3 linked regions of the Homo sapiens genome follow. The main gene of each other region encodes a partner of the protein of the gene in region 3 in a complex. Each region holds a gene or a part of one and is shown on either strand. Other genes may lie near its edges. A codon is read from its position in the direction of its gene.

The links.
Region 1: C9orf78 (region 3) and DDX39B share a complex: the UniProt entries of both Homo sapiens proteins name them as parts of the spliceosome.
Region 2: the proteins of C9orf78 (region 3) and SNRNP200 are in contact, whole or in part, in a cryo-EM structure (PDB 7OS2), measured with the Homo sapiens proteins. Residues at the interface, in NP_057604.1 of Homo sapiens: Arg5, Lys6, Ile7, Phe8, Arg9, Arg10, Arg11, Glu16, Ser17, Glu19, Glu21, Asp23, Ser24, Glu25, Val27, Arg28, Lys30, Leu31, Thr34, Arg35, Val37, Gln38, Arg41, Arg43, Pro44, Asn45, Gly46, Val47, Ser48, Ala49; in NP_054733.2 of Homo sapiens: Val1188, His1189, Leu1190, Gln1191, Glu1201, Pro1283, Ser1285, Arg1287, His1288, Leu1289, Asp1729 (codon at 4,428), His1730 (codon at 4,425), Asn1769 (codon at 4,308), Tyr1770 (codon at 4,305), Asn1772 (codon at 4,299), Gln1774 (codon at 4,293), Gly1775 (codon at 4,290), His1780 (codon at 4,178), His1784 (codon at 4,166), Leu1788 (codon at 4,154), Gln1791 (codon at 4,145), Asp1795 (codon at 4,133), Gln1798 (codon at 4,124), Ser1799 (codon at 4,121), Tyr1826 (codon at 4,040), Thr1827 (codon at 4,037), Glu1830 (codon at 4,028), Leu1831 (codon at 3,837), Met1834 (codon at 3,828), Ser1835 (codon at 3,825).

What each region holds. Positions count from the first base shown.
Region 1 is NC_000006.12:31,538,977-31,546,749, forward strand, and holds the start of DDX39B (spliceosome RNA helicase DDX39B), read right to left. Parts: upstream 3,028-7,773; 5' UTR 2,974-3,027; intron 2,203-2,973; exon of another isoform or gene 2,125-2,202; intron 1,689-2,124; 5' UTR 1,557-1,688; coding exon 1,346-1,556; intron 299-1,345; coding exon 171-298; intron 1-170. Other genes in the region: ATP6V1G2 (V-type proton ATPase subunit G 2), read right to left, coding at 6,432-6,605, 7,133-7,233, 7,502-7,583. UniProt on the Homo sapiens protein: Involved in nuclear export of spliced and unspliced mRNA. Component of the TREX complex which is thought to couple mRNA transcription, processing and nuclear export, and specifically associates with spliced mRNA and not with unspliced pre-mRNA.
Region 2 is NC_000002.12:96,274,520-96,281,546, forward strand, and holds part of SNRNP200 (U5 small nuclear ribonucleoprotein 200 kDa helicase), read right to left. Parts: intron 5,041-7,027; coding exon 4,932-5,040; intron 4,480-4,931; coding exon 4,290-4,479; intron 4,193-4,289; coding exon 4,028-4,192; intron 3,840-4,027; coding exon 3,718-3,839; intron 3,432-3,717; coding exon 3,288-3,431; intron 3,197-3,287; coding exon 3,020-3,196; intron 2,723-3,019; coding exon 2,562-2,722; intron 2,467-2,561; coding exon 2,385-2,466; intron 831-2,384; coding exon 738-830; intron 637-737; coding exon 493-636; 3' UTR 1-492. UniProt on the Homo sapiens protein: Catalyzes the ATP-dependent unwinding of U4/U6 RNA duplices, an essential step in the assembly of a catalytically active spliceosome. Plays a role in pre-mRNA splicing as a core component of precatalytic, catalytic and postcatalytic spliceosomal complexes.
Region 3 is NC_000009.12:129,826,790-129,832,302, forward strand, and holds the end of C9orf78 (splicing factor C9orf78), read right to left. Parts: intron 5,185-5,513; coding exon 5,107-5,184; intron 4,280-5,106; coding exon 4,082-4,279; intron 2,753-4,081; coding exon 2,616-2,752; intron 2,515-2,615; coding exon 2,416-2,514; intron 1,464-2,415; coding exon 1,372-1,463; 3' UTR 501-1,371; downstream 1-500. UniProt on the Homo sapiens protein: Plays a role in pre-mRNA splicing by promoting usage of the upstream 3'-splice site at alternative NAGNAG splice sites; these are sites featuring alternative acceptor motifs separated by only a few nucleotides. May also modulate exon inclusion events.

The DNA.
Region 1 (7,773 bases), on a different chromosome or scaffold from region 3:
AATCATGAACCCCACGCTTGCGACAGAACATCCCCCACAGCTGTCAGGTTGTCAAGGGTAACAGAGGTCATGTGCTCATGGCTCTGCAAGCATCATGTAGCTAGGACAAAAACACCCTTCCCTTATAGTCCTAACCAAAATCCCCTCCCCAGCACTCTCCCCAAATATACCTGCCCAGTAACTGGCTCCAGCTGTTGCAGTGTGGCCAAGACAAACACTGCTGTCTTTCCCATGCCCGACTTGGCCTGGCACAGGACATCCATTCCCAGAATGGCCTGAGGGATGCACTCATGCTGGACTAAAAGTTGGGGGGGGAGGAAGATAAATTAGACTTCAGTCTCCAGATAACTCTACCTTTTTCACCATGCCAAGCCCATTTCTTACCACTCAATTCTCAAAGTCTAGTATTTACCTGGTTCTTGCCAACTTCCAGACCCATTTTACCTCTCTCTGCTCAATTACATTCACCTCAAAATCAGACTCTCCTAATTCCTCCTAGCTTTAGCCTCCTCCAGATCTAGGCCTTCCCAGTCCTAGTAACAAACCCCTTGCATCTACCAACCGCTCACCTTCAATGATCCTAGCTCTGTCCTTATTTTTCTTAATCTGTAACAATTCATGACATTTGAATACCTGCCACAGACCACTTCTCCTGCTTAGGTTGCTATACTTCGGGTCACGTAACTACTACAACCCTGGACAAAATGAAGGACTTGGTACCTGACCCAGAAGCCAGTCATCTCTAAACCAGTCATAGAGGTTTCCAGAGACCACAGTTGGCCTGGCCCAACAGAGGGAGACTACAGGTCCAAGCAGGACCTTTCTGGAAATTTAAAATTAGAAGTCAAGTGACAAAATTAAAAATAAGCAGACAAGAAAAGCCAGTCACAAGAATGAATGGCAGACCTGGAAGTCACTTTTGGATCATTAGCACTTTGGTGCTATCACGAAAGAAAGAATAAGCCTGTATAAGCCTCCTCTATCCAAAATTGTTTTTGATACTTATCCCCTGATTTTTTCTTCCTCACTGTCGCCCCGGCTGGTGCACAGTGGTGCAATCACGGCTCACTGAAGCCTCAACCTTCACCTGCTTAATTTCTGAACGTTTTGTAGAGACAGGAGTCTCGCTGTGTTGCCCAGGCTTCTCTTGCACTTTTGAGCTCAAGTGGCCACCCTCCTGCCTCGGCCTCCCAAAGTGCTGGGATTACAGGCGTGAGCCACTGCACCTGGCCCTGATCTAGCCTTAAGTATAAACCCTTACCACCACCTGAGCAACGACAAACACATCTTTGTATTGTACCCTTAAAGAGCCCAATGAGCACTACATGCCCAAGAGAAAATTTACCTTCTGACGGATGCTCAAAGCCACAGTCGACAATGGCCCGGAGCAACTCTGGCTTGAGCAGGAAGTCACGAAAGCCAGAGCTGTGGATGGAGACATAGGAGCCCTTGACATCCTTCTTGGCAGGGGCCTCAGCCCCATCTCCCCCAGCTGCTGTCTCCACCTCATCATCTTCATAGTCCAAGAGCTCATTGTCCACATCGTTCTCTGCCATAACTGGGCCGGCAGGGGAAGAAGGGAAGGGGGATCTGGATGGGTTCTCGCAAAATAGGTGAAAACAAGGGGTGAAGAGTAGGGGATTGAGGAACAGCAAAGGAAAACAAAGATACTATTTCTAACAGAAGAGCTGGAGGGGGGAAAAAAAAAAGCAAGACTTAATCACGAGCACAGCCTTCACCACCTCTTTTCCATCCCCAGTTCCCACTTTCCCTAAACCAGGAAACTTTTACCTGGAAAGAAAAACAGATACAAAACATAAAAACGAAAAGCAAATATAACAGAACAGAAAAAGCAGTACCAGGGAAAGTGGTTAGGACAGAGGTTCCCAACAAGATTAGCAATCACAGTAGCGGAAACCAGAAAAGTTGGAAGGGGAAGACCAACTTATAAATTCTTGATCTGAAAGTAACAGTGAGGAAATAGAATAGATAATAAAAGGTAAAATACGACTAATAACTTAGTAAAGTGGAAAATGGAGATGACAAGTAGAGTCCTGAAAAGTCCTCAAAGGAAGACTCCGCTTTCCCTATTATAATCCCACCGTTATGGATGCCTAACTCAGCAGCCATCAGTCAAGGGTGATAGATGAGGGTCATCACTGCGCAAAGCGCTCACCTTTCGAAAAGAAAACATCATATGGCCGCCGTCCACCTCCCATAGCTCTCAGCCTCCCACTTCTCAGTATCCTCCCTTCCGCTGTTTAAGCAAGCCTTGTGTAATTAGCATGGGGGGGAGGGGCGGTGCAAGACAAATGGCTCGGCCACAAAAAAACAAAATTCATGTCTCCACCCTACAATAAGAAAGCTAATAGGTGACAGAGAAAGGCAATCCCCGCCCAGGCTTTAACAGGATCTTTACCAAGTGGTCTCACATCACTGTTACGCTACGAAGGTGAGACTCCTTTTGGAGAAACATACAATGACACCAATCGTATCGTAAACACTTGGAAGGCACTCCAAATTAAGTTGGGCAAGTCAAGGTGAGAAAAATCCAACTGGGCCCAGAAACCAGCTCCTCCTCCCAGTCCCACCGAGGGCCGAGAAAGAGCTCAAGAAAGGACAAGGAAGGTGAGAAGAGCCCCGCCCTCCGCAAATACCAAGACCAAGGGACGCCGAGCGCCGCCTCTCATTGATGCTGAGGCCTCCAATATGAGAAGAACCCATTGGAAGAAGGGAGCAAAACGAACACAATGGCGCCGAGGACACCATCTTGGATTGGGTCCCCCCTTAGCTTCCCTTCCTTCCCCCAGGAGCTCTTTGCTCTCGAAAGGGATGCAAGCTAAGGAAATAGCGAACCAACTAGGCCCCAGCGACCAGACCATCGCCTGTGAAAAGGGTATCAGGAACCCATGTGACGGGATGGGTGCGGAGAAGCGCAGATGGAAACGGATTGTAGCGAAGGCCAAAGCTTACCTAAACAGGGAGAGCGCGTATGGCGGCAGCAACAGCGACGAAGGAGGGAAATCTGCCTTCACTTCCGGTTGCAGGCTTCCCTCTACTCCAGCCTCCCGCCTTCTTGGCTGCAAGAGCGCAGGCGCAAGGGACCGGAAACAGGGCCTTCCGCGGTTATACAGATCCGTGCGCTCCAGGCTTGCCTTTGGAAAATGCCTGTCTGAAATTTGTTTTAAAACCGTTTCTAACTTCACTGCTACCGCCAGTAACAAAAGATATAAAGGAAACTAACGTCTCCCCCCCACTGTTATCTTTATTCTCTTATCCTACTCCTCTCCATGCCCCTCATCTCTTCGTTTAGGTTTTTGCCACGCAGGTCTTCTCTGTAGGCACCCCTCCATGGATGCGCGAGGAACGAGTGTGGCGAAGGCTGCGAGTTCCCACGGGGTCCTTGGCCCGGTAGTGAAGGTGACCTGAGGACTGCTGGGCACGCACTAGGAACCGGCAGGCCCTAGCTGAGGGGAGGGAGGAGGGAAGTCTCAGGGAACTGGATTGCTCGGGGGTGTTTCCCGACTCTTTCCCAGTCGTGGGGCTGGTGGGCGGTATTTTCCCAAAAGGATGCTGTCCGAGGTAGCTGATGCCCTAGGGCCAGTGAGTCAGGAAGGTGTTCTGAATCCGAGCGGGAAGACGGGGTCTGGATTCGGCCCCAAGTGTTAATAGTAGGGCTTGAGGGTTATACTACATTCCATTAATACTGTTTTTGTTTTTGTTTTGAGACAGAGTCTCGCCCTGTCGCCCAGGCGGGAGTGCAATGTCCTGATCTCGGCTCACTGCAACCGCTGCTTCCCGGGTTCAAGCGATTCTCCTGCCTCAGCCTCCCGAGTAGCTAGGATTACAGGCGCCCGCCACCACGCCCAGCAAATTTTTGTTTTTTTAGTAGAGACGGGGCTTCACCCATGTATGACCTCAGGTGATCCACCCACTTCGGCCTCCCAGAGTGCTGGGATTACAGGCGTGAGCCACCGCGCCCGGCCCATTAATACTGTTAATTCGAGCAGAATGTTCTTGGCCCCGCCCCAACAGCCCCATTGTTCAACCTGGATTTTTTTCCTGAATGAAACATTTGCTATCCCCGTCTTTGAGATGGGGAGCTACAAAAGTAAGACCTGATGTCCTGCTGTGTAATAAAACAACAAACGTTTGGCCCTCTCCCTGTTAACATACTTAATCATTTAATACTAAGGAGTAGGTACCGTTATTCTCATCTTATTGACAGAAGCGAAGCAAAGCAACATATCTCAAGCAGTACGGCTGGTGAGGTTACAGCCAGGATGCAAACATCTCTCATTCTCTATTGTATTCTGCCTCCCTGCTCAAAGAATCTGGTTAGTAAATACACTGCAGGTTACCTTATTGGTTCAAATTCTTGGTGAAGTAAGCTTGTCTTCAGTGACAAATGAAGTAACTAATTCAAGAATGGTGTCATAGAAGGTATTTTCCCAAGTATCATTTAATTTATTCAAAAGTATTTATCAACTGCCTCCCTTGTGCCACATGTTGTCCTAGGATCTGGGGACACAACGGTGAACAGCCCTGTTCTCACAGTGTTTACATTACAGGAAAGAAAACACATAAACACAAATATAATGTCAAGTATCGATAAGTGGTCAGGGTGCAGTGGCTCAGGCCTGTAACCCAACCCTTGAGGAAGCCGAGCCCGAAGGATTGCTTGAGCCCAGGAGTTTCAGACCAGCCTGGGCAAGTGAGACCCCATCTCTACAAAAAATTTTAAAATTAGCAAGGCATAGTGGCACTCGCCCGTAATCCCAGCTACTCAGGAGGCTGAAGTGGGAGGATCATTTGAGTCCAGGGGGTCAAGGCTGCCGTGAGCTGGAACTCCAGCCTGGGCAACACAGCAGGACCTTGTCTCAAAAAACCAGTAGCAGTAAGTGCTATGAAGAAAATGCAAGGTAAAGGGGCAAAGAGCACTTGCTCCTACACTCCAGCTTTTCTCTACAGTTGCGATCTATAGTCCTCAGATTCCCAAATGAGGAACCATGTTTCTCACTTTAGAGAAATAATAAAGTACTACTTGTTCTTGTTTCTCCAAGAAGTTTCAAAGGATAGCCATTTGGGCTGTTTAGGGAATATGTAAACAAAAAACAAGAAAGTGACTGAAGGCCAGGCACAGTGGCTCACACCTCTAATCTCAGCACTTTGGGAGGCCAAGGCAGGTGGATCACTTGAGGTCAGGAGTTTGAGACCAGCCTGACCAACATGGCGAAACCCCATCTCTACTAAAAATACAAAAAATAGCCAGGCGTGGTGGCACACACCCATAATTCCAGCAACTTGGGAGGCTGAGGCAGGAGAATCGCTTGAACCTGGGAGGCAGAGGTTGCAATGAGCTGAGATCACGCCATTGTATTCCAGCCTGGGCAACAAGAGCAAAACTCCATCTCAAAAAAAAAAAAAACAAAGTGACTGAAAATGAGAAATGATGAGGCAAAAGGAGGCTGCTTCAACTCACCAATTTATTTGCCAATAATTATTTTATTGATACTTTTTTTATTGTTACAATGGGAAAGTAAGGTGTCAAGGATATAGAAAGGAAGGGCATGCATATGAGGGAACACAGTATCATTTTAGATCTTAGAAAGCAATGAGCATCTGATAAGTCTTTGGGGAAATAGGAAAGGAGGAAAATCTAATAAAGACAAAGATCAGCAAAAGAAAAACAAAGAGAGGCTACAAAATGCAGTTATCTACCTGGAATTATAAGAGAGGGGCTAAATGTAGTCATCTCCTCTTTTTGGAGATCAGAAGGTCTCTGGGAAAAGAGAAGAACCAATTTTTCAGAAAATAACTAGGGTCACAGAATGAACAAGTGGAATTAGAGAGCCAGTGATGGACGTGAGGAAACAGCTGTGTAGGTTTTGACCAGTGAGCAGGTGGTGGTAATAGTATCACAGGGTTGCTACTTACTGAATCACTGCTACAACATGCAAGGAACTGTGCTAGACTTTACAGAATGATTCCTAATCATTGAAGCAACCCTCACAAGGTAGGCATTATTATCATCCCAGTTTCACAGAGGAGGACATCGAGGCTACCAAGTTAAGTAGCTTGTCCTGGTTTCACAGCCAGCAAGTGACAGGGTCAAGAGAGGGACCCACATCGGCCAGACACTGAAGTCAGGATGTTTTCCACATTCCTACTTCCCCATATTACAAATTTCACAGAGGGTTTAGGTGAGAATGACTTGGAAGTTTACAAAGTCCCAGTGAGGGTTAAAGAACAACAAGGAGATTCAGATGTGAGCAGGATATTTATAAGTGTCACAGGAAAATTATTGGATCCTGCCTCCCAGGATTTCTAGGGGATGGAAAGAAGACAGGGATTATGGTGGGAGGTGATTTTGATTGGAGGATTTCTTTGAGGGAGGGAACTGGCAGAAGGAGTCAGGCCCTACGGTGGCCCTAGGCAGAAATCCGGTAGTTGGGGTGGACCTGGGGCCTGACGTCGCAGACCATGCCAAGAAGCTGGGCCAGGACACGCTCTCGGTTTCTCTGCTGGGAGCTCTGCATGCCCTGCACCTGGCGCCTTGTAGCCTGCTCCACCTCAGCAGACAGGTTCCCCTGGGAGCCCATGGCCTGGGGGGTAGGGAGAGGGGTGGAAGAGAGAAAGGGAAAAGCAGAAACAGACAAGGGTCCAGGCATATGAGGGGAAAGATCCTGAAACAAAGCCTAGAAGAAAGGCCCTCTCAGAAACCACCCCCATCCCACAGAAATATCCCAACACCAAAGAGATCAACACAGTCCCCTTTCCCCTTAGACCTAACATGCAACTTCATCCTAAAACAGACCGTAATATCCCCACCACCTCACCATCCATGACCATAAAACTCTACCCTCCACCACAAATGTTAATCATACTCCACATAGATGTTATACTTTACACAGACTGTGGCATTCCGCCCACAAGCTCTATGTGGCCTTCAAAACTCCCAGACTCTCCTACATATCATCACAAAGTTTCACCAATGTTGTGGTCCCTGCCAGGGTCCCCTCAGCCTCAGCCCTCTGCCACCATATTTTCTTGTTGAGTCACCCTTACACACCTCACTAGATGCACCCACCAACTTGCAGTGGGGTCTCAACCCGACTCTGCCTCAACTCACCGCCTGCTGCTTGCTCTGGAATTCGTGCTCTCGCTCTCTGCGGTATTGCTCCACCTCCATCTGTGCCTCCTCCTTTGCCTGCTTCAGTCGCCGGGCCTTCCCTGGAGGCAGAAGAAAGGACAGTGAGTGGGGATGGACCCACACACACACAATGTAATAGCAGGAGTCAGTCCCTTCCAGAAAGTTATACAGCCTTCTCTCAGCCAACCAGGTGCCAGATTCTAATATCCATCCATTTCTTCCCTCCTAACCAGCCTCCAGACCCTAGCTGTCTGTCTTCCCGCCAGCCTTGGGTTTTCCCAAAATGTTTGCTGTCCCCCACCCCCAATTTTCTTTCCAAACTCCTAAGGGAGGAAAGAGGAGACTCACTCTTTCTGGCATCTGCCACCTTCTCAGCTGCCCGCTTCTCAGCTTGCAGAAGCTGCTGGATACCTTGGGACTGACTGGCCATTTCTGTTGTTATGGCCGATGCTGTTTTGAATGCTGTCAAAGTACCAGATGGCTCCCACCCCCCACCGCTTACTTCTCCTCCTCCAGCTCGTTGCTGCAGTCCTCCACTACCCCTGGGTCTTAGTGCTCCCCTGCTCACTCAGCCTCCTGCACCGAGTGTCTCTCCCAATCTCATCCTCCTATTGATGACT
Region 2 (7,027 bases), on a different chromosome or scaffold from region 3:
GGGTACCACTGAGGCCAGGCCACAGTCGCATGTACCCTCCTCTGGGCTGACTCACGAGGCTACAGGGGACAGCACACCTAATGAGCAGGTCTGTCCTCCAGACATACTCATTAACAAGCACGTTCCTGGCTAAAAAATAACCAGATCTTTTTGGCCGTGCCCTCAGGTTGGAGAAAGAAAACTTTTAATTTGGAATCACTACAAAGACAAATGGTTTCTACAAATTATTTTATTAGAATGTCAGACTCAAAAGAACTACCAGGAACATGCCTGAAAATGCTATATATGATTTATGCTTGACCCATGACACCTGCTGTCACTGGATCCAGAGTGAGCAAGGGAAAGGAAGTGGAGGTAGGCGGGGACAGCACCAGCCCTGGCTGGCCAGACCTGAGGCCCACAGACCTGGTCCCCACAACCAGGATTCCTACAATGTACACATTCCTAATTCAGGCTCAACTCTCCTTTACCCAAAAGTAAATGCCTCAGGACTCAATCTGAATCACTGTCTGTCTCAGCTTCTTTCACATCCACGCTGAATTTGTACTCCTGGTCACATCCCATGTAAGCGTCACTCATGAAGTACAGAGTGTAGTTGTGGGCACCAGTGGCTGGGGCCACAAAGTCCAACTTCACCTAGAAAGAGCAGGCAGAAATCAAGATGAGCATGGACACAGGAAGCATTCTCACCCTTCCCCCATGCCAGAACAAATGCTAGGGCCAGTGGACACACTCACCTTGGCCTTCTGCTGCAAGGTCAGCCTCTTGATGGAGATGAGGCTATTGGACTTGGCATCTCCAATCACCACCCACCAGCCCTCTTCACGTTTCTGCAGTGATCCAAAACCAAGAATTTCAGCATGTAAAACTTGATGACCATAGGCAACCATGAAAATGGTACAGTTACAAAAGAGAGAACAAAAATCAGATAGCTTTCCAAAGTTTCTTCCCGAAATACAATTAGATTTAACATTTTAATACTATCAAAAGTTGTCTCAAACAGACTTAATTTTTTAAGTAGATGAATTCATTTGTTGGTTCTGGCTCATTTCCTTGTGCCAAGGTACCTTCTCCCACTTAGTACCTGCCACTAAGTCCAAGGTACTACTATTAGAGGTCTAGTCTTTGGGGCCTAGGAGCTTTGAGTTCCTTAGAGATACTTTTAAGTACAAGGCAAATCTGCCAGATGAGAAAAAGCTTAGGCTGGGCGCGGTGGCTCACGCCTGTAATCCCAGCACTTTGGGAGGCCGAGGCGGGTGGATCACGAGGCCAGGAGATCGAGACCATACTGGCTAACATGGTGAAACTCCGTCTCTACCAAAAATACAAAAAAGAAATTAGCCGGGCATGGTGGCGGGTGCCTGTAGTCCCAGCTACTCGGGAGGCTGAGGCAGGAGGATGGCGTGATTCCGGGAGGCGGAGCTTGCAGTGAGCCGAGATCGCGCCACTGCAGTCCAGCCTGGGCGACAGAGCGAGACTCCGTCTCAAAAAAAAAGAAAAAGCTTAACACAGAGCTGAATGTGCACAGAGATATCCACAGCAGGCCTTGCAGCCCTGTCTACGGGCTGCCCCGCTGTCACAAAGACGAAGAGTCCCAGTTAAAAGCAGTCTTTACTCAGAGCCTTGAAACAATTAGTTTACAGAATTAAACATGACAGTATCTGGTTTCTGCTATCAACCTTCAATTATTCTCCCATATAAAGAGAACCAGAATTTCTTTCTGGTGGTAAAAAACCAAGCACCCAGAAGCACAGTAAGTGGCAGTGAGAAAAAAGAAGAAACAACCAGGAAAGCCCAAGTGTCCTGCAGCCATCGGAGTTAAAGACAAATGCATCTTAAAGAGTCAGAGAGATGGACAATACTACACAACTGACGGGTTTAACAATGACCAGTCATCTAAATTTTTTTTTTTTTTTTTTTTTGAGATGAAGTCTCACACTCGCCTGGGCTGGTGTGCAGTGGGGCAATCTCGGCTCGCTGCAGCCTCCGCCTCCTGGGTTCACACCATTCTCCTGACTCAACCTCCTGAGTAGCTGGGACTACAGGTGCCCACCACCACGCACAGCTAATTTTTGTATTTTTAGTAGAGACGGGGTTTCACTATGTTGGCCAGGCTGGTCTCGAACTCCTGACCTCGTGATCCGCCCGCCTTGGCCTCCCAAAGTGCTGGGATTACAGGCGTGAGCCACTGCGCCCGGCCCTAAACTGTTTAAGCAGAAACAAACAGAAAAAAAACCCCATAGCCTCAAGATTAATTCTCACCCTTGTGAGCTGATTATCAGTCTAAAGTTTCCCTCCCTCAGGGACAGTGTGCCCTTGTACCAAGCACCTAGCCAATGGATAGGGTGAGTTGACACCTGACCAAGCCAGCTACCAGGACGCACCTGCGGGAAGAGAGGCGCAATGACAGGGCCTGTGACTTCCTCCTCTCGCTCCAGCTGCACCAGCACCACAACTGGCCCGCCACTGCAGGGGGAGAGGAGGGGCGCACGTCAGTGATGGGGCAGTGGGCTCAGAGCACACTATTATGCTGTGCCCAACAGGCACCACCTCTGGCTCACCTGCGGATGCTGTCCTTATCTACCACCTCATAAGATAGTTCGATATTAGGGTAGCGGTTACAAAAGCGAGCCACATCTGCAATCTGGCTGTCAGTCAGCTGAAGCAACGCGTTCCGTTCTTCATCCTCCATCTCCATGATGTCGAAAACACTCTCCACTCCCTGCAGTGAGTATTCAGACGTCAGGAAAGAGAGAACACGGGCCAACAGCAAATGACACAGGCAGCAAAGAGCTACTAATTTTACCTCCTACACTATCAAGTCATCTAGATAAAACAGCTGCAGAAAGAACACAGCCCACAGTTGGCAGGCTCTCTAGCATCTCAACAGGGAGCACCTTCGGAGGAACCATAACTAAAAGTTTAACTTACTGAGACTCACCTCCCGCAACCCACGCTCGGTCCACAACACTGGGCTCTCAGGCTCACCCACCTGACCCTCTAGGCTGACCCGGCTCACCTTGTCTGTGCAACGTTTGATATGCTCAGAGGTGAAGTGTGGCAGCTGCTTCAGGTATGAGTCCTTGGACCACATGGCTTGGGTGACCATCTGGGCCAGTTCCATAGCTGCCAGAGCAGGGCTGAGCCACCCATTGCTGGAAAGGACATCCACGCAGGCCTGGATGAGCCGGATTGCCTGAACAGGAAAAGGAGTATAAAAGTGGGCGGAGTTGGAGCTGAGATGTTTAGAGCACCACTGACCCCTCTGCCCCACACCCACACTCTACCTTACTAAGGATTTCCTCCGTATCTGACTGCAACTCAGCACTCAGCTGCATGCGAGACAAGTGAGCCTGCAGGAGCAGGTTGGTCTTGACGTGCGGATCATTGAACTTAGGGTTATTCAGCTTGTGGGGGACCTTCTGAGCCAACTACAAAGTGGAAGAAAAATAGCTGGTGATGAACAGGTGACCCTGCCTGAGACCAGCTCAGGCCAAAGCACCACGTGGCCCAGGCTCACACAGCCCTTCAACACCCTGAGGCATGTGGGTGGTAATGGGATGGAGATGGGTTTGAGGGAGGTATGGAGCGGGAGGACATATGGCGGGGGTCGGGGGATGCGTATGGGCGTGTTGGTGGCAGGGATGCCATGTGCTCTGGGCACACAGGCCGAGTTTGTTGTTCCCAGGATGCTCTCCTGAAGTCTGCTGTCCTCACCTGCCTCAGGAGATTGTCTTCATGGTGCCGGATGGGAATGTTCTCATACTCTGCTGCATTGGAGATGATCTCGATAAGCCCTCGCACCTTGGTCTTGGCATTGAGGGACATGCTGAAGAGCTCTGACAGAAAAAGGAAATGTGAGAGAAGCTAAAACCAGGCAGAGAAGGAGCAGAACTGCCCGGGCTCCCCTGCTGTCCCCTGCAGTGTCATCCCGCTGACAAACACGGGCGCACCTCTCATCCCAGTGGGCTCCTGACCCGTGTAAAAAGGCTCCCACAGACAGGACACGGGCCATGCCGGGCCTCACCAATGGTGGTGTAGTTGATGTAATAGTAGGCGGCGATCATGCCTAGGTTCAGAGGCGCCACGTCCATCTCGTCCTCGATGCTGATGCACTTGGACTGCTCCAGGTCACTCAGGGTCTGCTCCACCAGCTCTGACAAGTGGTCCGACAAGTGACGATGGGAGATGCCTATGGAGGCGAGAGGTGAGTGGGGAGCCTCAAGAAGATGCCCAGCAAAGACTGTGAGAACCACCAAAGGATCACGTGTGCTCCCAAGCCCACTGACCCTGCAGGTTGTAGTAATTGGGGTTCTGTGTCATGCGGCGGTACAGAAAGGTCCAGGTGAGGTAGTCCACAGCATCCTGCTTGTTCTCAATGGTCTTGGTGACGATCTCAGCATTGAAGTGGTCATGCATACAGTGGTCCAGGTGAGATTCTACTGGCAATGGCTCATATAAGAACTTCTTGAAGAAATCCTGTGGGTTGGAGAGGGAGAAGGAGTAATAAAGAATTAGTGACAACACGGTCACAGAGGGCCAAGGGCAAATCAACAGGGCATGGTCCCTGTGTGAGACCTAACTAATACCAAAATGGAAGAAGCCACACATTTAGAAAGTGCATCACTGGTGACAATACGCAGTGGGAACAGAGGTACAGCAAGTCACGAGGGCAGAGCAGTGAGCAGCCCAAGGAGGAAGGAGAGAACCAAGTAGAGGGTGAAGACCTCAACACGTGGAGCCAACGGCAGCAGCAAAAGCAAAAGGCAGCAAAATTCCATGTGGGTGGCAGGCTCGTCACAAAAGAATTGTGTAAATAAGAGAGGCAGAAGTTAAGAGACTAAAGTTACTGAAGACATCTATCAAAAGAAAGATTAAAGAATCCATTCTGAGGCTACGGATCCAAGAGGCTCCATGAGTCTAGGACTGACCTTCTTGGAGCCCTGACACATGATGACACAGCGCCCCTCATCGTCCTGCAAAGGGCGGTTGGCGTGGCCCACCATCTGAAGCACGTCATAGATGGGGTAATCCACATAGCTGGTGACAGAAGCAGGGAAAGAAGGAAAAGCCACCTCAACACGGAGACCATGCTCAGGAAGCCCAACTCCCTTCGCCAAGTAAGAGTAAAATGTTAATACGGGGAGACACGGACAAATCACGGGACGACTCTGTTTATGAATCTCTGCACTTACAACTAGCTTCACTGGCTGGCCTGTATAACATTTTAGTATTCAGTGTAAGGGCCATGAATTTGCTGCTCAAGTGCCATGAACCAAGCTACAAAACTATCTAATGCCAAAACCAAAATAACTCCCTATTCGAGGATCAAATATGTAAGTCAAACTTCCCAAACTTTTCTCCTTTAATTAAAAAAAATTATTATTGTTTTTATTTGTTTTTTGATACAGGGTCTTGCTCTGCTGTCCATACTGGAGTGCAGTGGCACAGCCACGGCTCACTGCAGCCTTTACCTCCTAGGCTCAAGTGATCCTCTCACTTTAGCCTCCAGAGCAGGTGGGACTACAGGTGCATACCACCACACTTTCCAAACTTCATAGTTGTGTATTTCGTGAGTCATCAAGTCACCCAACTTTAACCCTACCTAGAAGCAGGTTCAAACATTAAAAATGAACCCGTAAATAAAATTCATTTCAAACTAATCTGCATTTCAGGAAAAAGTTATTAAGCGTTGGGCCAGGCACTATAACTCACACCTGTAATCCCAGCACTTTGGGAGGCTGAGGTGGGTGGATCACTTGAGCTCAGGAATTCAAGACCAGCCTGGGCAACATGGTGAAAACCCATCTATACAAAAAAAAGGAAAAATTAGCTGGGAGTGGTGGCACATGCTGGTAGTCCCAGCTACTTGGGAGACTGAGGCAGGATGATTGCTTGAGCCTGGCAGGCAGAGGCTGTAGTGGGCTGAGATCATACCACCGCATTCCAGCCTAAACGACAGAACAAGATTGTCTTAAAAAAAAAACAACAACAAATTATGCAGGCTTTTTTATGAGAATGACTGACTCTTCTAACTTCTTTTTTTTTGAGATGGAGTCTCGCTCTGTTGCTCAGGCTGGAGTGCAGTGGTGCTATCTCGGCTCACTGCAACCTCCGCCTCCTGGGTTCCAGCGATTCTCCTGCCTCAGCCTCCCAGGTAGCTGGGATTACAGGCGCGTGCCACCACACCAGGCTAATTTTTGTATATTTAGTAGAAACAGGGTTTCACCACATTGGCCAGACTGGTCTCGAACTCCTGACCTTGTGATCCACCCGCCTTGGCCTCCCAAAGTGCTGGGATTACAGGCATGAGCCACCACACCTGGCCCTTTTTTTTTTTTTTTTTTTTTTGAGACGGGGTACCACTCTGTTGCCCAGACTGGAGTGCAATGGCGCGATCTTGGCTCACTGCAACCTCTGCCTCCTGGGTTCAAGTGATTCTCCAACCTCAGCCTCCCAAGTGGCTTGAATTACAGGTGAGTGGCTTGAATAACAGGCACCTGCCATCAAACCTGGCTAATTTTTGTAGAGACGGGGTTTTGTCATGTTGGCCAGGCTGGTCTTGAACTCCTGACATCAGGTGATCTGCCCACCTTGCCCTCCCAAAGTGCTGGGATTACAGGTGTGAGCCACCACACCCAGGCTTTTTTTTTTTTTTTTTTTTTGAGTTGGAGTCTCACTCTGTTGCCCAGGCTAGAGTGCAATGGTGGGATCTCAGCTCACTGTAGCCTCTGCCTCCCAGGTTTAACTGATTCTCCTGCCTCAGCTTCCCAAGTAGCTGGGATTACAGGCGCCTGCCACCACACTCAGCTAATTTTTGTTATTTTTAGTAGAGACGGGGGTTTCACTATGTTAGCCACACTGGTCTTGAACTCCTGACCTCAAGTGATCCGCCCGCCTCAGCCTCCCAAAGTGCTGGGATTACAGGCATGAGCCACTGCGCTCGGCACTCCTCTAGCTTCTTACTTGTCACTATATAGGTGTATGACCTCGACCAAGTCACTTTTCCTAATCTACAAGATGTCTG
Region 3 (5,513 bases):
CTATCTGTCAGATTATGGGCTATGCCCTGGGGATTCAAATTTAAAAATTAGGCACACATGGTTCCTGCCTTCACTGACCATATTCAAGTGGAGGAAAAAAAAAAATCTCCATTTTACAGATGAGAAAACTGAGGCTAAGAGTGAAAAGGATCTGTCCAAGGACACAAGTAGTAAGCTGCGAGGTGGGCTCAGATCTGACTCCTGGGCCAAACCACTGTAACCACAATACCTGCTCTAAATCCACCCAGAAGTCAGCCAATCTGCTCTTTCCTCTTTTGGACCCCTGTGGATGCCTCAGGAAAAATGAGGGCACAGGTAAGAAGGTACTTGACAGCAGGTTGCAGCATGTCTATGCTGCAGTGGTCCAATCATAGCTCACTGTTTGAAATAAATGAGAAAATCCATCTCAGTAATTCAGTTTTACATTTAGGCTACCCAAACCATGGGCTTTAAAAACATTACCTGATGCTGGTATAAGAAACATAATACAAACAATAAGGTTGGATTCATTTTGAAATTTAATAATTCTAATAGTAATAAGAAACATAGTTTATGCTTTTTTTTTAATGAAAACAAACAAGTAATTTTGTAAAAGTCAGAAAACACCAGTATCCTTCTGATCTCATCCTGGATTTTTCTGTCAGCTGGAGGATGCATTTCTGACCCCATCCCAGACACGTGAAAGCAGAAGACATGATGCATCTATAATAATGAAAGCACAATCTAAAGAGTATTATCACACCGTGAACAGCTTCTTCCTGACCCAGAGCAAATATTAAGAGAAAGACAATATATTTACAAACAAGATTTAATAATGCTCACAAGAATAGAGTTTGCCCCCAAATGGAAAATTACACATTATTTTGTTTCAAAAAGTTATAAATTTAGTGCTTGAAAAATCCAGCAGGTAAGTAGAAGGACTAACAGGGTCTGTTTCTGGAACTGTCCGCCAGCAAATGAGCATGCTCTGTCCTGGAAGCCATTTTTCTTTTTCTTTTTTTTTTTTTTTTTTTTTTTTGAGACAGAGTTTTTTGCTCGTTGCCCAGGCTGGAGTACAAAGGTGCAATCTCGGCTCACCACAACCTCCGCCTCTTGGGTTCAAGCAATTCTCCTGCCTCAGCCTCCTGAGCAGCTGGGATTACAGGCATGTGCCACCACGCCTGGCTAACTTTTCTGTATTTTCAGTAGAGACTGGGTTTCTCCATGTTGGTCAGGCTGGTCTCAAACTCCCGACCTCAGGTGATCCGCCCACCTCGGCCTCCCAAAGTGCTGGGATTACAGGCAGGAGCCACCACGCCCGGCCAGGAAGCCATTTTTCATGGGAGGGATATAGGGAGAGGAAGGCGATATTTACATCCCACTCTGCACAACTCAGTACCGCCTATTCATTTTCTTGAACTTCTCATAATGATAGTCATCAGTTGCCTTCTCGTTAGCAGGACGCTTGCGGTTAGGAGGGGACCCTGAGAAGGAAAAGAACAGGAAAGGTGGTTTGCCATGCTGGAACCCACTGCTAGACTTTACTCCATGCAGGCAAAGACAACTGCCTGTTTCCTTCCCCACAGGAGCCCCAGCGCCTAACCCAGTGAACACAGTAGGGCCTCAGTAGATACGTATTTGTCTTTTTTTTTTTCTTTTCTTTTCTTTTTTTTGAGATGGAGTCTCACCCTGTTGCCCAGGCTAGAGTGTAATGGCATGATCTCAGCTCACTGCAACCTCCAACTCCCGAGTTCAAGTGATTCTCCTGCCTCAGCCTCCTGAGTAGCTGGGATTACAGGCACCTGCCACCTCACCTGGCTAATTTTTGTATTTTTAGTAGAGACGGGGTTCACCATGTTGGCCAGGCTCGTCTTGAACTCCTGACCTTAGGTGATCTGCCTGCCTCTGCCTCCCAAAGTGCTGGGATTACAGGCATGGGCCACCGAGCATGGCCAATACCTTTTTCTTTTCTTTAAAAAAAAGATGTGGTCTCACTCTGTCACGCAGGCTAGAGTGCAGTGGTCCAATCATAGCTCACTGCAGCCTTGAACTCTTAGTCTCAAGCAATCCTCCTGTCCCAGCTTCCCCAGCAGCTGAGACTACAAGTGTGAGGCACTGCACCCAGCTAACCTTATGAGTAGCTTTTATTTGTCCTTACTGAAATTTTCTAACTTCTTGAGTCTCTACTGTGCGTGAGAATATGAGAGAGTATGAATTCTCAGAGTAATCCTAACAGGTAGGTTCTATTAGGATTCCAATGAGGAAACTGAGGCTTAGAAAGGGGAAGGCACATAGTCATGGTCCAGAGCATGGACTGGAACCCATATGCCCCGGCTCCAATGCCAGGCTCCACCCTGTCCCCCGCTGCATCCTGCCTCCATGGGTTCCCACATTGCTGAGCACTCCAGGCAGCCCCGAGGCCTTTGTTGCACTCACGCTCAGGCTCTGGCTTCTCCGTGTCACCTACTCTCAAGGGCCGGGCCTTGGGCTCTTCTTTGTTTCTCCGTATGGGCGCGTTGAGCTCCTCATGATAAACTGGACCCAAAGAGACCAGGGGACACGTTAGAACATGAGGTTCCTAGGGATCTCAGCCCAAATAGGGGAATGGGGGCAAGACTGCTCTCCGAGGGGCTTACATCTGTTGTGCTGCACATAATTCACAGCCATGTTGGTAGGCACGAAGGAGGTCTCGCTGTCTTTCTTCTTGTTCTGCTGCTCTGCCAGCAGACGGGCCTTGGCATCCTCCGTGGAAATGATATTTTTTATTTTAGCACTATGGAGAGAAAGAAACCACACCACTTAGAAGATGATAGCACCTTACTACTCAGACATGAGTGGTGAGGCTGGCAGCCCAGCAGTACATAAGAAAATCATGTGTCCTGGGGCACAGCTCTCCACTTTATCAAGCACACTTGTAGTCACATTCTCACGGGACTCTCACGGCTGTCGGAGAACCACAGTTACTCTGCTCTTCTGATCAAGAGCAAATTGAGCTTCAGAGAAGTAAAATGCTTAAGGCTCAAAGTTTGTAAAGGCCAGAAAAGAGCCCAGAAGCCTCCCAGCTTTCTACTGTACCAGAAGATTATTCTAACAATTGTACCTCTTCCATAACAATTCCCTTTTAAAGTGGATATTTTAAGAAGGATCATGGGGAGAAGGGGTGAGTGAGCCTTTAACATGGCTCCTGCTAGAAGAAAACAGAAGAATAAAGGGCCTGATACAGCTGAACAGCTGTAACACGCTAAAGAACCACTTTTGCTTCCAGCAGTCAGGGGCCCTTACTACTCTGATCAAGCCTTCAGCGAAACTTCTAGCAACAACCTGCCAGGGACAATCTCATTTGTATTTGTAGGATTCTAAGGACACAGATAAGAACATGGGGTCTCATTACATTGCCCAGGCTGGTCTTGAACTCCTGGGCTCAAGTGATCCTCCCACCTTGGCCTCCCAAAGAGCTAGGATAACAGGCACAAGTCACCATGTCTGGCCTTTTTTTTTTTTTTTTAAAGGGTCTTACTCTGTCACCCAGACTGGTGTGCAGTGGTGCAATCATGGCTCACTGTAGCCTCAACTCCTGAGCTCAAGTGACAGCCCAGCTAATTTTTTAAATTTTTTTGAGAGACAGGAGTCTGACTATATTTCTCAGGCTGATCTCCTGGCCTCACGTGATCCTCCTGCCTTGGCCTCCCAAGTACTGGGATTATAGGCTTATAGGCATCAGCCACCATACCTGTCCCCCATAAATTTTTTTTTCCTTTTTTTTTGAGATGGAGTCTTGCTCTGTCGCCAGACTGGAGTGCAGTGGCATGATCTCGCCTCACTGCAACCTCCACCTTCAGGGTTCAAGCAATTTCCTGCCTCAGCCTCCCAAGTAGCTGGACTACAGGTGCCTGCCACCATGCCCAGCTAATTTTTGTATTTTTAGTAGAGACGGGGTTCGACCATCTTGGCCGGGCTGGTCTTGAACTCCTGACCTCGTGATCCACCCGCCTCAGCCTCCCAAAGTGCTAGGATTACAGGCATGAGCCACCGTGCCTGGCCTGTCCCCCATAACTTTTAACTGGAAAGCACTGTGTCTTCTGCCTAGGGGTCTCAAACATACTCGATGCCCAGGTCCACCTCAGGAATGCCACTCAGCATCTGGTTGGAAAGCATCTCCTCGGTCTTCTTTGCTGAGGAAACACGGATGTTTTCTGGAAGTTCATAAAGACAGTCCTCTGCATTCTTTGGCTTAACTTTCTGTTCCTCATGTTCCACGATCCCTTTCCTCTTCTTTAGCTCTGTCTCAATGTACTTCATCCTGAAGTGAGAAACCCAGAGGCCTCAGGGAGGGGTGGGAAACACACACCAGGTGTCCTCTAAATCAGTGGTCCCCAACACTGGCCCGCAGACCAGTGACAGTCCATGGAGAAACGAGAAAAAAAATAACTTGAGTTTTTTCATCAAGTTAGAAATTTTCTAAAGAAGCACCAACCTATGAGGTTATGTCCCACTAATCTATTGGTGTTATGATGTACAAGGTTCTTTGAAGACAGAAAGATGATAGTTTGCCAATAGCTTTGTTGGCAAAATAAAAAGTGGGCAAGCCCATGTTTTATCCCTGCAATGTTTTGGGGAAATATTACTAGTCATGAAACCACCTTTGAAAACAAGTTTTTATTTTTTATATTTTGGAGACGGAGTTTCACTCTTGTTGCCCAGGCTGGAGTGCAATGGCGAGATCTTGGCTCGCCGCAAGCTCTGCCTCCCAGGTTCAAGCAATTCTCCTGCCTCAGCCTCCCGAGTAGCTGGGATTACAGGTGCCCACTACCACACCCAGCTAATTTTGTATTTTCAGTAGGGACGGGGTTTCTCCATGTTGGTCAGTCTGGTCTCGAACTCCCCACCTCAGATGATCCACCTGCCTCGGCCTCCCAAAGTGCTGGGACTACAGGTGAGAGCTACCGTGCCCGGCCTGAAAAGACCTTTTAAGAGGTTTTCAAAGTTCTTAAGCTGGGAAGTAGAAAGAGAGGGGCCAACTTTGACATCTTCTAGAAAATTCTAGAAATGTCATCTGTTGACTAAATATCTTGGACTCTGACTGGAGTCCAGCCCCAACTGCTCACAGCCAAACAGACTGACACTTACATGTCTGCATCCTCATCCCTTCGGTTGGTTTCTGCAGAAAACGATGTCCCCAGGTGCAGGTCCTCCTCCTCACTGATCCTGGAGGGAGAGAACAATGAGGCAGAGCTTTCAAGTCACAACTCAATGAGGCTGAGTTTTATGTTCTAAGAAGAAAACAAAGACATAAGCATTTATAATATCCTATTTACAGTTGGCAAAAAAAAAAAAATGCCGTAGTATATGTAAAGAAAAGAAACTCTAGAAATATATGCAAGCAAACTGTTGGCTGCTAGTGATACCTCCAAGGATTGAGTGGATACACTTATCCTTAGGTATCCATGGGGGATTGGTTCTAGTGTCCCTCAAGGATACCAAAATCTGCAGATAGTGAAGTCCCTTACATAAAATAGTATAATATCTGCATCTAA